Linked DNA regions of Homo sapiens: region 2 is linked to region 1. A link means that fine-mapping ties the variant in region 1 to the expression of a gene that starts in the linked region. Tissue or cell type: whole blood. Region 1 holds a variant in brackets; the other region holds the start of a gene. All regions are shown on one strand. Distances are from middle to middle.

Region 1 (8,188 bases):
CAGTGCTGAAGAGAAGGCAATACTGGCACTAGAATGACAAGATTCATGGAACACAGTGGAAAATCCAGAAAGAAAGCTGCATGTATGTAATATTTTATCATGTGATAAAGTGATATGTTAATATCCACAAGGAAATAGTCAATTATTTCATAAGTTCTCTTTTGGATATTGACTTACCATATGGAAACAAATATTGCTGCATTTCTACCTTACCAGTTACAAATAGTGATTTAGTTGTAATAAAAAGAAAATCATTAGACTTAAATGATGATGAATTGCATAGAAATTCTAGGTGAGATTGGCCTTTCTAAACCTGACATCAAAGTAGACACCATAGAAAAATTGATAGATTTTGTTTTTTTCAAAGTTCAATTCTCCAAAAGGTGCCAAATGTAAATAATAACAAATGAGGAGAAATATCTTCAACACATTGGATAAAGGGTCAGTATCTCTAAAATGGTGTATATTAATTCTTACGAACCAATAAGAAAAAACTAATCCTCCAATAGAAGAATAGGAAAAGAGTGTACAAGGCAATTCTCAAAAGAAGAAATATAAATGAACTGTAAAGTTGTAAAATGATGCTAGTACTCCTACGATGGGGGAATGCAAACCGAATTAACAAATCTCATTTTCTGAACCACAGAGCTTGGATTGCAATCATTATCAAATTAAAGTATATGACTTAGGGAATGTTAATTAACCCCCCAATTTCTAATGTTACATTCAACAGTACTTTAAATCCTTAATGAAGTTTCTGTGTAGATTAAATACAATATGCATGCAATGTGCTTAGTACATTAACTACCAGAATGTCAGTACCCATATTTACCATCAATATTATTATTATTATTAGTCTTTTTGAGACAGAGTCTCACTGTGTTGCCCAAACTGGACTGCAGTAGTGTGATATTAGCTCACTGAAAACTCCACCTTCTAGGCTCAAGAGATTCTCCTGCTTCAGCATCCAAGTAGCTGGGATTACATGTGTGCACCGCCACAGCCAGCTAATTTTTTGTATTTTTAGTAGAGACAGGGTTTCACCATGTTGGCTAAGCTGGTCGCAATCTCCCGGCCTAAGTATTCCTAACGACTGTACTACTCAAATGCTGGGATTACAGGCATGAGCCACCGGGCCTGGCCAGTATTATTATTACTAATACAGTAATTATTGTATAAAAATTCCTGATAGATCAATGATGCCATCATTAAATAATCAACACATAAAAACATTCAAATAAATGATATGGACGTCTTTATGCATACTTATGAAGTATGTGCACCTTTAGAAGTAAGACACACAATCCAGACACGGGAAAATATAAGATTGATTAAAATGTATAAAAACCAAATATAGGAACAAAAATATAAATATGGCATTGAAATAGAATTGATACATACTGCGCTATGACAGAGTGAAAAAGTTCAAGAAAACGGATAAAAATATTGTTACCTATAGTGTCAGGGAGAAAAGAGGAATGAGAAGTCTACAATGGAAGCTAAAATCTTCAAATGTGTCATCTTTTATAATTTTGACTTCAGTTCCAACTAAATGTTTTACGTATACAAAACAAATATGAAACAAAACAAAATAATACACAAATTTCCAAAATATAAAAATGAAACTGAACAATTAAAGCAGCTATATCAATGTTGGCATGAACAAATAGAGAAAAACTATTTCAAATGATTTTGTGGAAAAAGTATTGTGATTATGTACACAAAAAGGAGAGAAAGAGAGAAAAGCAAGGAAGGAAGGAAGGAAAGAAAGGAAGGAGGGTGGGGTGATGGAAGGAAAGGAGGAAGGGAGGGAGGGAGAGAAAATGATAAAAGCAAGCATGGAAGTAAGAAAGGAGAGCGAGAATAAAAGGGAGGGCAGAGAGAGAGAATGTTCAACTGCATATATTGGCCTAGTGTTTTAGTGGTCATTATAGTATTGCTTATATTGTTATAGACATAAGGAATAAGCACCACTCTCAGCTGCGATCTCTGGACCATTATTGGATGTATGATTCAGTATGAATACCCTTCCCATTTTTGTCCAAAATGTCTTGCTTCACAGCTGGACCCTAGCTGTACCTGTCTGTCCTAGGAAGCAGAGTGAGTGGGCCTTCCCCATGTTCTAGGAGAGCTGAGAGAAACTTGCTCTCAGCCAGGCTGCTTAGCTGAGGCTTGGAGGTGGCAGCTTGGTCTTCAGGAAAGTCCTGGGGGAGGGTGGGGAACAGGGTGCAGCTGCTGCCAGGGGAGTGTGATATTGCAGGGGAGATCAGGAGTTAAGCTGTGTTTCTCTTTGTACAGAATACAGTAAATTCAGGGCAGGAAATGAGAGTTGGCTGGTCTATCTTGTGTACCAGAAGCAACCACAGGCAGATTTTCAGTGTCTGAATCACTGTGCCTGTCCCAGGTGGCACAGTAATAGAACCCAGAATCATTTTTAATTAGATTTTGCAGTCTCAAATTCCAATTGCTCCTTGTGCTTCCAGTGTCATACTTTCCTGGAGTGATTCCTGATTCCAGCACAACCCTGGAGTAGTAGGGTTCATAGTACAGAAGACACTGTGGGGCCTTCCCCTCCTGGTGCAGGTACCAGTGGATGTATAAGGTACTTGCTCCAGGAAGATCACAGGTGATTTCAGCAGATGACCCAGTCAGCCTGGTGACTGACTTCGTTCTCCCTTCCAAGTTGGAAGATATCTGACTGGCTGCAATGGGAACAACACAAAATATAATGAGGCATTTCTTAGTATGTCGCTCCTTGCAAAAGAAGAAAATAACAAAACAAAACAAAACCCGTGATCCTCTCTGTAGGCAGCGCACTCACCAGGAGACAGGAAAGCTAGAAGCACCGCTAGGGCCCACCGCATGCCTTCCTCTCTGGGGCCTTGGAAGGAAAGGGACCAGATGAAGAGGAGCAGAAGATCCTCTTAAAACTCAGGCCCCACTCAACAAGGAAGTGATCCCTAGCACAGAAGACAGTAAGAGGAGCTGGTCTTCCTGAGTCACAGGCAGGGAGAAGTGACTGAGGATGTGTCTTAGGGGACTCCCAAGCCTTCCTCCCAGAAGCGGTGGTTCCTGGGAGGACCTGCAGAGGAGCTCCTGCCTCTCTGCTCAGGCCCGTTCTCCATCGCCCTCTTGTGGCAGCTGAGAGCAGGCCCTCTTCAGGAGAGAGCCAGGGGCATGGATTGCTCAGGCCCACAGCAGAGGGAGTGCAGATGTGGGGGAAGCTGACCCTGGCGCTAGCTGGTCATGGCCCTTGGGAGAGGGCAGTCCCACAGCAGGCTCACATCCTGCACTTCAGAGTTTCAGCAGCCAACGCAGCTGCCAGAACCTGGTCCTGCCAGGAAGCTTCTGATTAGGGCCCTGAACCACCTTCCTTTTCACATTTGCAAGTCCACATTTGCAAGTCCACCCAGGGCCATTCTGAGAAGGCTTGAGCCTGCTTTATTAACAGGACTGAGGGTCAGGCATGTTGGTTTGCCTTGGACTCTACTCAAATAAAAACAACGGCAGTGGCTCTCACTAACCATCGGTAGGACATTTTAAGCACCAAAAGAATAACACCTACACAAATTCTTGAAAAACATAATATAGCAAAATAAAGTCTCCTCTGGAGGTTGCTAAGACACCATCTCATTCTGAAAACAGAAAAGAAAATAATCAAGCATTTACCTTGCCATTTCTGTACA[A/G]ACATTTTAGAATACCACAGAGCTTAAGAATGAAAGTTCTTTTTTTTTTTCTTTAGATAGATAGAGTCTCGCTCTGTGTCTCAGACTGGAGTGCAGTGGCACAATCTCAGCTCACTGCAATCTCCACCTCCGGGGTTCAAGCAATTCTCCTGCCTCAGCCTCCCAAGTAGCTGGGATTACAGGCACGCGCCACCACACCTAGCTAATTTTTATATTTTTCATAGAGATGGGGTTTCACCATGTGGGCCAGGCTGGTCTTGAACTCCTGACCTCAAGTGATCCACCCACCTCGGCCTCCCAATGTGCTGGGATTACAGGTGTGAGCCACTGTGCCTGGCCGAATGAAAGTTCTTTTGTGGAAGTATTACAACCAATAAATTTAGGAGAAATGTTAAAATGAGAATATTAGCATTATGCAACCGTAATGATATGTTGAATTTAGACAACTACCATGAATTGCTTTATAGCTTTCACGTGCCCTGGCTCTATTTCTCTCTCTACTATTCTATTTCTCTATCTCCTGCATTGCTTTCTATCACTATGTCCTTCCATCTCCGTCTTTATGTCCATATTTCTTTTTTCTCTGTCCCGTTTTTGTTCCTCCCTTTACATTTTTCCTTCTATAGCTCCCTCTTACAGCTCTCAGTCTCCTCTATTTTGCTTTAGTGCTCCTGTTTCTTACTCTGTTCATATCTTTATGTTTCTGTCTCTCTATCTGCCTATCTCTATTCATCTCTTTTTCTATTTCTCTATTTGTATCTCTCCTATCTATTTACTTTCTACCTCCTTCTCTCCTCCTCTCTTTCCATTTCTTCCTGTGGTCACTATAGCTCCTTTAAAGTCTTTGTTATTCCAACACCTGTGTCGTGTCAGGATTAGCATCTGTTGTTTGGCTTTTCCGTTTGGAGATGCTAAGATTTTCCTCGTCCTCCACATGCGGAGTAATTTCGGATTAAATCCTGTACACTTTGAATATCATGTTATAGAGCTCTGGGCATTGTTTAAATATTACACAGAATGTGGAGGGGGTTTTTTTGTTAGCAGGCAACTGACGCAGTTAGGGATTACAACTTCCTACTGGTGTTTGGTGGGCAGTTCCAGTCAGTTCCGTTTTCCAGCCTTTGCAGTACTTGTCTTGTCAGACCTGTCCTGTGTGTGCGCCACCCAGTGGCCATTCTAGGACCTGGGCAGTGCCTACTCCTGCTTCGGTTTGCAAGGCCTTTGGCTTTGGAGCTGTTTAGGGTCACGTTTATGCATGCACAGCTAGTGGGTGAGCCCAGGAGTCCAGACATCATTGCATGATGTTTCTTGCTTAATCTTCTTTCTCTCTGCAAGCTCTGCAATACTTTCTAGTTCACAGGAAATGCCCCTCCAGTCGTCTGGCCAGACAGGTGTGGCTTTAGCACACTGCATTTCCCACCATTGTGTCTCCCTCCAGGGCCAAGTGGTGAGAGGATAGAGAACAAAAACCACCAGGATTCTCTCTCAGGGCCACAGCTTCCCTGGTCAGAGAGAAGGATCCCTTTCCTAAGAGCTTTAGGCTCCTGGCTCACCATAGCTGCTGCCACTGCCACTCAGATTGCCTGGGGGCTGCGAGAGAATGGAAAAGGACAAAAAACAGAAAACCAGGGCTCTCTGACCACAGAGAGTCCCCCTTTCTCTCTGTCCTCACCTGGTGTACAGTTCTGCATTTCAGATTATCTTTGTACATATACTCTGATTATCTGAGTACAGGCCAGGGGATAATTGAGGAAAAATAAATAAGAAACTTACTGGGAATTCATAGTGCTTCACTTTCCGATTTCCTTCTCCAGTTGACTTGCTATCATTTATTTTTCAAAGTCCTCAGATTCAGGGTTCATAGTTGCATTTGTGAGCCAGACAAGGCAGTGTGGGCTCACTGCAAATTTTCCAGAAGTGGAACTCATTCTTGATAAGTCAAAGCTCCTTCGATTAAGAGGCGCCGTTTATGCCCCCCGCCTTTTTTTTTTTTTAAATACAAGAAGAACTCATAGGGCTCCAGTTCTGAATTGAGGCTTCAAGTGGCCTGATGTGCTTCTGCTAGCTCTTTGCTTTCTGTCATTGTCATTAGAACAAATCCAGGCTAGCCTGTTGGAGGATGAAACCCTGTGTGTAGTGGAGCTGATTTATTCAGACCCAGGCACTTTGACCAGGCAGTCCCCCTCCCAGCTAACCCAGCAGCTGCCTGACATGTGGCCAAGCCCAGCCAAGATCAGATGAGCTTGGTTTAGATCAGCAGAACAGTCTAGCAAACCTACGCATTTGTAAGAATTTGTAGATGATTATTGTGCTAAGCCACTGAGTTTGGGATATTTGCTACATGGCGTTATTGTGGCAATAGTATGGATAGACAGACAGACAGATAGAATATATGAAGAGAAAAGGAAAGCTAGAAATACATATAATTTTTTTTTTTTGAGACGGAATCTCGCTCTGTCGCCCAGGCTGGAGTGCAGTGACGCGATCTTGGCTCACTGCAAGCTCCACCTCCCTGGTTCATGCCATTCTCCTACCTCAGCCTCCCGAGTAGCAGGGATTACAGGTGCCCGCCACCACACCCGGCTAATTTTTTGTATAGAAATATATATAATATTTTATATATAACATATTATACATGTATAAATACATTTATGTATATTTTTACAATATATAAATATGCATATTTCTTTGTTTTTTCTCTTTATATATATTTTTCTATCTCAATATTTACCATTATTTCTGTATATTTATCTCTATCTTCCTAACACTGCCGCACTCTGTGTGTCCACGTGTATGCTTCTGTCTCCACAGGTCTATCGTTCTCTCTCTCTCCCTATCTCTCCCCCTAACTCCAGTTCTCTCTTCTTGTATCTTTCCCTATTTCTCTGTCTCTCTCCATCACTGTCCCTGTCCCTGTCGCTATATTTATATCACAGTTTCTCTCTCTTCTCTGTTGTTTTCTCTCTCTCCATCTTCCCTCCCTCTCTCGCTGTCTCTCTGTCCCTTTGTCTCTCACCCTCTCTCTGTGTTTTGTATTTCTTTCTCTGTTTTCTCTCTCTCTCCCCCGCCATGATAGAGAACTATACCTCTCCACGTGTCTCTGTCTCTTGCTCTTTTTGCTTGTATGGCCACTGTCCTAGTCATTTTCTTTCCTTCTCACTTCCACTCTGCTCTCTGTCCCTCTTCAACTTTCTACTTTCTGTTGCCGTCACTGTCTCTATATCATGCCCTCTCCCTCTTCATATGAACACTCTGTCCCCTCTTGTGTCTCTCCTTTTGTCTCTATCAAGTCCTCCTTGCCAGTCTTCTGGGGTCCTGAGGGTGTGATCTGCTCACTATGGTGGGAGAGAGGTGCAAACTCACAGATGTAAATGTTCTTCTGCTTCTCCTCGTAATTGTACCTTTACATATCAAGAGGTCAGCATTATGATGATGATGATAGAAGAATTGTTTAAAAAAATAGCACTGCCTTGGGGAGAAAGTTCTAGTGCGCAGACAATTGCTTGTATTTCTATTTCAGTCTGCTGTGAGATGTTCCCTAGCAACACTATGGGAAACAATCTGCTTACCATGAATTATTAGAATTTCCTCACCTCTAAATGGTTGTCTGGGCTCTCTGTATCACTTTGTGACCGCAGTGACGCAGGTCAATAGTGTTTTCAATGAGCTTAAGGGGGCACACACCTCAGTATCAAGAGCACACAGCACAAGGCCTGGAACGTAGTAGGCATTTAATGTGTATCAATGAGGCTGGGCACGGTGGCTCATGCCTGTAATCCCGGCACTGTGGGAGGCCGAGGCAGGCAGATCAGTTAAGCCCAGGAGTTCCAGACCAGCCTGAGCAACATGGTGAAACCCAGTCTCCACAAAAAATACAAAAATTTAGCTGCACGTGATGGCACACGCCTGTAGTCCCAACTACTTGGGAGGCTGAGGTGGGAGGATCCCTTGAGTCTGGGAGGTCAAGTCTGTAGTGAGCTGTGATCGTGCCACCGCACTCCAGCCTGGGCAACAGAGTGAGACCCTGTATCAAATATATGTATATTTGGATGGGATAAATGATCAGGTGTGTAGTTTAGAAGGCTATTATAAGGGTGTCAATAAGGCTGAATTATATAACATATATTCTTTCCATAGAAAATTAAAAGGAAAAATGAAAAATTCTGCAAAGAACAGGGTTTGTATATGCTCAGTCTGGGCTGGGGCATAGATGGGAATGAGTAACTCATGCACATCATCACTGATCATCCCGGGCTAAAATAGGAGTGGACAATGGAGAAGATACGAAGCCAGAGTGGATGGATGAAGGGTCCCCAGTTTACGTTCCTGTGTCCTGTGCTGCTCACTGGCCGCTGCATGTTCCCAGAAGACAGCAGCATCTCCTGCCAGTGCTGTGGCCAGGCGGTGTCAGGCATCGTTTCCAGGGAAGTTAAGTGTGTCCCAGAAACCTCAGCCAAAGCTTCACTTCCTGCCTGCTCTTCTTACAGGCCCTGTGGCTGCCT
Region 2 (8,188 bases), 27 kb before region 1:
TATTTTATCACATGATAAAGTTGTACGTTAATATCCTTGAGAAACTACTGGATTATGTAATAAGTTCTCTTTTGGGAATTGACTTACCATATGGAAACAATTTTTTTTTTTTTTTTTTTTTGAGACAGAGTCTCTCTCTGTCCCCCAGGCTGGAGTGCGGTGGCACAATCTCGGCTCACTGCAAGCTCCGCCTCCTGGGTTCACGCCATTCTCCTGCCTCAGCCTTCTCAGTAGCTGGGACTACAGGCACCTGCCAACATGCCCAGCTAATTTTTTATATTTTTAGTAGAGATGGGGTTTCACCGTGTTACCCCGGATAGTCTGGATCTCCTGATCTCGTGATTCACCCACCTCAGCCTCCCAAAGTGCTGGGATTACAGGCGTGAGCCACTGCACCCGGCCAGAAACAAATCTTCTTAAGTTACTATGTTGCCAGCTACAAATGGAGATTTTCTTGTAATAAAACTGAAAACAGAAAATCATTAGACTTTAACCATGATGAATTGCACACATATTGTAAGTGAGATTTGCCTCTCTGATCCTAACATCAAAATAGACCCCTTAGAAAAATTGATAGGTTTTATTAAAAGTAGTACACAAAGTTCAGTTCACCAAAAGGTGCTGAAAATAATAGCAAACCACGAGAAATATTTTCAATACATTTGATAAAGGATCAATATCTCTAAAATGAGGTGTATTAATTCTTACAAACCAATAAGAAAAAAATGATAACCAACAGAAGAATAGGCGAAGAGTATGAAATGGCAGTTGACAAAAGAAGAAGTATAAATGGCCTACAAAGTTGTTAAGTAATGCTAGCATTCACACAGGTAAGAAAATGCAAATTGAATTAACAAATCTCATTTTCTGAACCCCAGCGCTTGGATTGAAATTGCTATCGAATAAAGTATATGACTTAGGGAATGTTAGTTAAGCCCTTTATTTCTCATCTGGTGTATTCAATGGTACTTTAACCCCTCAATGGGGTTTCTGTGAAGATTAAATAAAACTTACATGCAATGTGATTAGTACAGTAACTACCAGAATGTCAGTACCCGTGTTTATCATTAGCATATTATTATTACTACGGTAATTATTGTATTAAAATTCCCAATAGATCAGAGATGCCATCATTAAATAGTCTATGAATAAAAGCATTCAAATAAATGATATGGACTTCTTTATTCATACTTATGAAGTGTATGCACTTTTAGAGGCAAGACACAAAATCTAGACACTGGAAGATAAAAGATTGATTAAAATGTATAAAACCTTATCAGAATGAAAATATAAATATGACGGTCAAATAGAAACAATATATACTGCACTATGACAAACAAAAGACTTTTCTGTAATACTGAAAGACTTGTTCTGAATAAGAAAAAGTGAAAAAGTTCAACTGAACTGATAAAAATATTGTTACCTATAGGGTCAGGGAGAGAAGAGGAAAGAGAAATCCAGAATGGGGCCTGGTGAGGTTGCTCATGCCTGTAATCCCAGCACTTAGGGAGGCCGAGGCAGGGGGATCATCTGAGGTCAGGAGTTCGAGACCAGCCAGGCCAACATGAGGAAACCCTGTCTCTACCAAAAATACAAAAATTAGCTGGATGTGCTGGCGGGCACCTGAAATCCCAGCTACTTGGGAGGCTGAGGTAGGAGAATCTCTTGAACCCAGGAGGCGGAGGTTGCAGTGAGCCGAGATTGCTCCACTGCACTCCAGCCTGAGTGACAGACTGAGAATCCGTCTCAAAAAAAAAAAAAAAAAAAAAAGAGAGAGAAAAAGAAATCTAGAATGTAAGTTAAAATCTCCAAATGCATCTTCGTTAAAATTATGACTTTAGTTCCATGTAAATAGTTTACATATGCAAAACAAATATGAAACAAAACAAAATAATACAACAAATGTCTAAAATTTTAAAATGAAAACTGAACAAATAAACTAGCTATATCAATGTTGGCATGAACATGTAAAGAAAAATTATTTCAAATGATTTTGTTGAAAAAATATTCGGATTATGTACCCAAAAAGGAAAGAAAGAGAGAGAAAAGCAAGGAAGGAAGAAATGAAAAAAGGAAGGAAGGAAGGGAGGGAGAGAGGGAGGGAGGGAGGGAGGGAAGAAAAAATAATAAAAGCAAGCAAGGAAGTAAGAAAGGAGAGAGAATAAAAGGGAGGGCAGAGGGAGAGAGTGTTTAACTGCATATCTAGGCCTAGTGTTTTAGTGGTATTTATAATATTGCCTATATTGTTATAGACATAAGGAGTAAGCAGCACTCTCAGCTGCGATCTCTGGACCATGATTGGATACATGATTCAGTATAAATACCCTTCCCATTTGCTGTCCAAAATATCTCGCTTCACAGCTGGACCCTAAGAAACAGAGTGAGTGGGCCTCCCCCATGTCCTAGGAGAGCTGAGAAAACCTTGCTCTCAGCCAGGCTGCTTAGCTGAGGCTTAGCTGAGATGGCAGCTTAGTCTTCAGGAAAGTCCTGGGGGAGGGTGGGGAACAGGGTACAGCTGCTGACAGGAGAGTGTAATATTAGGGGGGAGATCAGGAGTTAAGCTGTTTCTCTTTGTACAGAATACAGTAAATTCAGGGCAGGAAATGAGAGGGGACGGCTCTCTCTTGTGTACCAGAAGCAGCCACAAGACAGATATTCAGTGTGGTGTAGAGCAGGTCTGAATCACTCTGCCTGTCCTAGGTGGCACAGTAATAGACCCCAGAGGCATTTTCATTTAGTTTTGGAGGTATAAATTTCCAGCTTATCCTTCTACTTCCATAAGTATCATGCTTTCCTGACTGACTCCTGATTCCAACATATCCCTGGAGTTGCAGATGTCATAGTACAGAAGATGCTGTGGGGCCTTCCCCTCCTGGCGTAGGTACCAGTGGATGTAGAAGGCATTTTCTACAGGAAGATCACAGGTGATTACAGCAGATGACCCCATCTGCCTGGTGCCTGACTTTATTTTCGCTTCCAAGTTAGTAGATATCTGACTGGCTGCAATGGGAACAACATAAAATATAATGAGGTATTCCTTAGTATGGCGTCCCTTGCTAAAGAAGAAAAATCCAAAACAAAACCCAACCTGTGAGCCTCTCTGTAGGCAGCACACTTACCAAGAGACAGGAAAGCTAGAAGCAGGGCTAGGGCCCACCACATGCCTTCGTCTCTGGGGTCTTGAAAGAAAGGGCCCAGATGAACAGGAGCAGAAGATCCTCTCAAAACTCAGGTCCCACTCAACAAGGAAGTGATCCCTAGCACAGAAGGCAGTGGGGAAGGCTGGTCTTCCTGAGTCACAAGCAGGGAGAAGTGACTGAGGATGTGTCTTAGGGGACTCCCACGCCTTCCTTCCAGAAGGGTGGTGCCTGGGAGGACCTGCAGAGGAGCTCCTGCCTCTCTGCTCAGGCCAGTTCTGCAGCACCCTCTGTGGCAGCTGAGAGCAGGCCCTCTGCAGAAGAGAGCCAGGGGCATGGAGAGTTCAGGCCTCCAGCAGAGGGAGTGCAGATATGGGGAAAGCTGACCCCTGGAGTCAGCAGGCCCAGCCCTAGGAGGGGGCAGTCCCACAGCAGGCTCACACCCTGCCCTTCAGAGTTGCAGCAGCTAATGCTGATGCCAGGACCTTGTCCTGCCAGGAAGCCTCTGATTAGGGCTGTGAACCAACTTCCTTTTCACATCTGCAAGGACACTTGGAGGCAACTGCCCAAGGCCACTCTGAGGAGGGTTGAATGTTCTTTATTAAAAGGACTGAGGATCATGTGTGTTGGTGGGCCTTGGACTCTGCTCTAAGGTAAATGTGTGTGTGTGTGGCGGGGGGCGGGGGGGGGGGTGCCTGTAATCCTGTGGGTGTGATCTCTTTATTAGACAATTTTTGTTCATTAAAGTAGGAGTGTAAGTTTGTTTGTTTGCTTGTTTGTTTTTAAAGTAGTACTGGGTGCCATGTCATGAAATATTTGGAACATACTTGAACTAAAAACTTGTTATATATCTGAACTTCCAAATTCCCTGGGTATTGTATATTTTATTTGTCATCCCTACCCTCAGAAAGCAGACTAATATCTGCAGTGCACCTGGATTCACAGATGGAAATAAGGGGACAAAACAAGTACAGTAATATAATTGTGAAAATTCAGTAGGGCATGCACAGATTACCACCACCTCTGTAAGAAGTATATAGAGACACATGTTTGAAATATGCATAATGAGATGTAGAACAATGTCTCTCTTGGTTGTTGTGTTGTCCTAGCTCAAATTTTGCAGTTTCTGCTGTCATCACAGCTGGGAATGAGAAAGGGAAGGGGCTCCAGTTGGTCTCCCTCTGCCTCTGGAGCACACGTGGAGGACATGAGGCTTCCGCAGGAACAGCTCTGAAAGCTGAGTTCTCGGGTCCCTGTGAAGGAGGGAAGCTTGCCTGCCTTGGAGCGTGAAAAAGTCTTGCTGGACAGAAGTCTCACGGTTTAAAACTGGGAAGGGAGAGGATTGAGATCACACTAGAATGCACAGAAAATTCTTAAAACAAAAAAATGAGAGAAACTTCATCAGAATGTGAAAAGAACTATAAAGCTACAGTGCTGAAGAGAGGGCAATACTGGCACTAGAATGAGAAGATTCATGGAACACAGTGGAAAATGCAGTAAGAGAGCTGCATGTATGTAATATTTTATCATGTGATAAAGTGATATATTAATATTCACAAGGAAATAGTCAATTATTTAATAAGTTCTCTTTTTGGTATTGACTTACTGTATGGAAACAAATATTGTTGCATTTCTACCTTACTAGTTACAAATAGTGATTTAGTTGTAATAAAATGAAAATCATTAGACTTAAACGATGATGAATTGCATAGAAGTTCTAGGTGAGATTGGCCTTTCTAAGCCTGGCATCAAACTAGACACCCTAGAAAAATGGACAGATATTATTTTATTTTTCAAAGTTCAATTCACCATAGGTGCCAAATGTAAATAATAACACATGAGGAGTAATATCTTCAACACATTGGATAAAGGGTCAGTATCTCTAAAATAGTATATATTAATTCTTACGAACCAATAAGAAAAAATTAATCCTCCAAAAGGAGAATAGGCAAAGAGTATCACAAGGCGATTCTCAAAAGAAGAACTATAAATGACCTATAACGTTGTCAAATATTGCTAGTACTCCTAAAGATGGGGGAATGCAAATCAAATTAACAAATCTCATTTTCAGAACCACAGAGCTTGGATTGCCATCATTATTAAATTAAAGTATATGACTTAGGGAATGTTAATTAACCCCCCAATTTCTTATGTTACATTCAACGGTACTTTAAACCCTTAATGAAGTTTCTGTGTAGATTAAATAAAATGTGCATGCAATGTGCTTAGTACATTAACTACCAGAATGTCAGCACCCATATGTACCATCAATATTATTATTATCATTATTCATTTTTTTGAGACAGAGTCTCACTCTATTGCCCAAACTGGACTGTAGTAGTGTGATATTAGCTCACTGAAACCTTCACCTTCCTGGCTCTAGAAATTCTCCTGCCTCAGCATCCAAAGTAGCTGGGATTACATGTGTGCGCCACAACAGCCGGCTAATTTTTTGTATATTTAGTAGAGACAGGGTTTCACCATGTTGGCTGAGCGGGTCCAAATCTCCCGGCCTAAGTGATCCTAATGACTGGACTGGCCAAATGCTGGGATTACATGCATGAGCCACCGGGCGTGGCCAGTATTATTGTTATTAATACAGTAATTATTGTATAAAAATTCCTGATGGATCAATGATGCCATCATTAAATAATCAACACATAAAAACATTCAAATAAATGATATGGACGTCTTTATGCATACTTATGAAGTATGTGCACCTTTAGAAGTAAGACACACAATCCAGACACAGGAAAATATAAGATTTATTAAAATGTATAAAAACCAAATATCAGAATGAAAATATAAATATGGCATTGAAATAGAAACAATACATACTCTGCTATGACAAACAGAGTGAAACAGCTCAAGTGAACTGACAAAAATATTGTTACCTGTAGTGTCAGGGAGAAAAGAGGAACAAGAAATCTACAATGGAAGCTAAAATCTTCAAATGCATCACCTTTTATGATTTTGACTTCAGTTCCATGTAAATATTTTATATATACAAAACAGATTTGAAACAAAACAAAGTAATACAACAAATTTCCAAAATGTAAAAATGAAAACTGAACAGTTAAACTAGCTGTATAAATGTTGGCATGAACAAATAGAGAAAAATTATTTCAAATGATTTTGTGGAAAAAGTATTCTCATTATGTACCCAAAAAGGAAAGAAAGAGAGAGAAAAACAAGGAAGGAAGGAGGAAAACAAGGAAGGAGAATGGATGGAAGGAAACAAGGGAGGAAGGGAGGAAAGGATGGATGGAGGGAGGGAGTTAGGGAGGGAGAGAAAAATAAAAACAAGCAAAGAAGTAAGAAAAAAGAGAGAGAGAATAAAAGGGAGGGCAGAGGGAGAGAATGTTCAACTGCATACCTAGGCCTAGTGTTTTAGTGGTCATTATACTATTGCTTATATTGTTATAGACATAAGGAATAAGCACCACTCTCAGCTGTGATCTCTGGACCATGACTGGATAAATGATTCAGTATAAATAACCTTCCTATTTGCTGTCCAAAATATCTAGATTCGCAGCTGGACCCTAGTTGTACCTGTCTGTCATAGGAAGCAGAGTGAGTGGGCCTCCCCCATGTCCTAGGAGAGCTGAGAGAACCTTACTCTCAGCCAGGCTGCTTAACTGAGGCCCGGAGATGGCAGCTTGATCTTCAGGAAAGTTGTGGGGGAGGGGTAGGGAACAGGGTGCAGCTGCTGCCAGGACAGTGTGATATTAGGAGGGAGATCAGGAGTTAAGCTGTCTTTCTCTTGTTCAGAATACAGTAAATTTGGTGGCAGGAAATGAGAGGGGGCGGCTCTATCTTGTGTACCAGAGGCAGCCACAAGGCAGATGTTCAGTGTGGTGTAGGGCAGATCTGAATCACTGTGCCTGCCCCAGGTGGCACAGTAATAGACCCCAGAATCATTTTCAATTAGATTTTGCAGTCTCAAATTCCAGCTCCACCTCCTCGGTGTATGAGTATAATACTTTCCAAGACTGAGACCTGATTCCAACACATCCCTTGAGTTGGAGACATCATAGTGCAGAAGATGCTGTGGGGTCTTCCCCTCCTGCTGTAGGTACCAGTGGATGTAGACGGCATTTATTACAGTAAGGTCACAAGTGATTTCAGCAGATGACCCAGTCGGCCTGGTGACTGACTTCATTCTCCCTTCCAAGTTGGAAGATTTCTGACTGGCTGCAATGGGAAAAACATAAAATATAATGAGGTATTCCTTTGTATGGCACCCCTTTCAAAAGAAGAAAACAAAACAAAACCCAACCTGTGAGCCTCTCTGTAGGCAGCACACTCACCAGGATACAGGAAAGCTAGAAGCACCGCTAGGGCTCACCGCATGCCTTCCTTTCTGGGGCCTTGGAAGGAAAGGGACCAGATGAAAAGGAGTAGAAGATCCTCTCAAAACTCAGGTCCCACTCAACAAGGAAGTGATCCCTAGCACAGAAGACAGTAGGAGGAGCTGGTATTCCTGAGACACAGGCAGAGAGAAGTGACTGAGGATGTGTCTTAGGGGACTCCCAAGCCTTCCTCCCAGAAGGGGTGGTTCCTGGGAGGACCTGCAGAGGAGCTCCTGTGTCTCCTCAGGCCCTTTCTTCGGCGCCCTCTTGTGGCAGCTGAGAGCAGGCCCAGGGCAGAAGGGAGGCAGGGGCATTGAGAGTTCAGGCCTCCAGCAGAGGGACTGCAGATTTAGGGGAAGCTGACCCTGGAATTAACAGGCTCAGACCTTGGAGGGGGCAGTCCCACAACAGGCTCCTACCCTGCCCTTCAGAGTTGCAGCAGCTAATGCTGATGCCAGGACCTTGTCCTGACAGGAAGCCTCTGATTAGGGCCCTGAACCAAGTTCCTTTTCGCATCTGCAGACACATGGAGGCAACCACTCAAGGCCACTCTGAGAAGGGTTGAACGTGCTTTAAATTAAAAGGACTGAGGATCATGTGTGTTGGTGTGTCTTGGACTCTGCTCTAAGGTAAATGTGTGTGTGTGTTGGGGGGGGTGAGTTGTGCCTGTAATCCTGTGTGTGTGACCTCCTTATTAGA

The links. PIP is the estimated chance that this variant, and not a neighbour inherited with it, causes the effect.
Region 2: TRG-AS1 starts here. The variant in region 1 is fine-mapped to the expression of TRG-AS1 in whole blood (TOPMed, PIP above 0.99).

The regions. Positions count from the first base shown.
Region 1 is chr7:38,365,192-38,373,379 of GRCh38, forward strand. The region is part of intron 3 of TRG-AS1 (T cell receptor gamma locus antisense RNA 1); the gene reads left to right. It also overlaps TRG and the pseudogene TRGV1. Among named protein-coding and RNA genes, the nearest start is that of TRG-AS1, 28 kb to the left of the region's middle. RefSeq lists enhancers at 2,890-2,979, 4,964-5,013. The variant A/G (reference allele first, on the strand shown) is at 3,687.
Region 2 is chr7:38,338,010-38,346,197 of GRCh38, forward strand. It overlaps TRG-AS1 (T cell receptor gamma locus antisense RNA 1), which reads left to right and starts at 3,412. Exons shown (of 4, transcript NR_040085.2): 1 at 3,412-3,790; 2 at 8,012-8,118. It also overlaps TRG, the pseudogene TRGV6 and the pseudogene TRGV5P.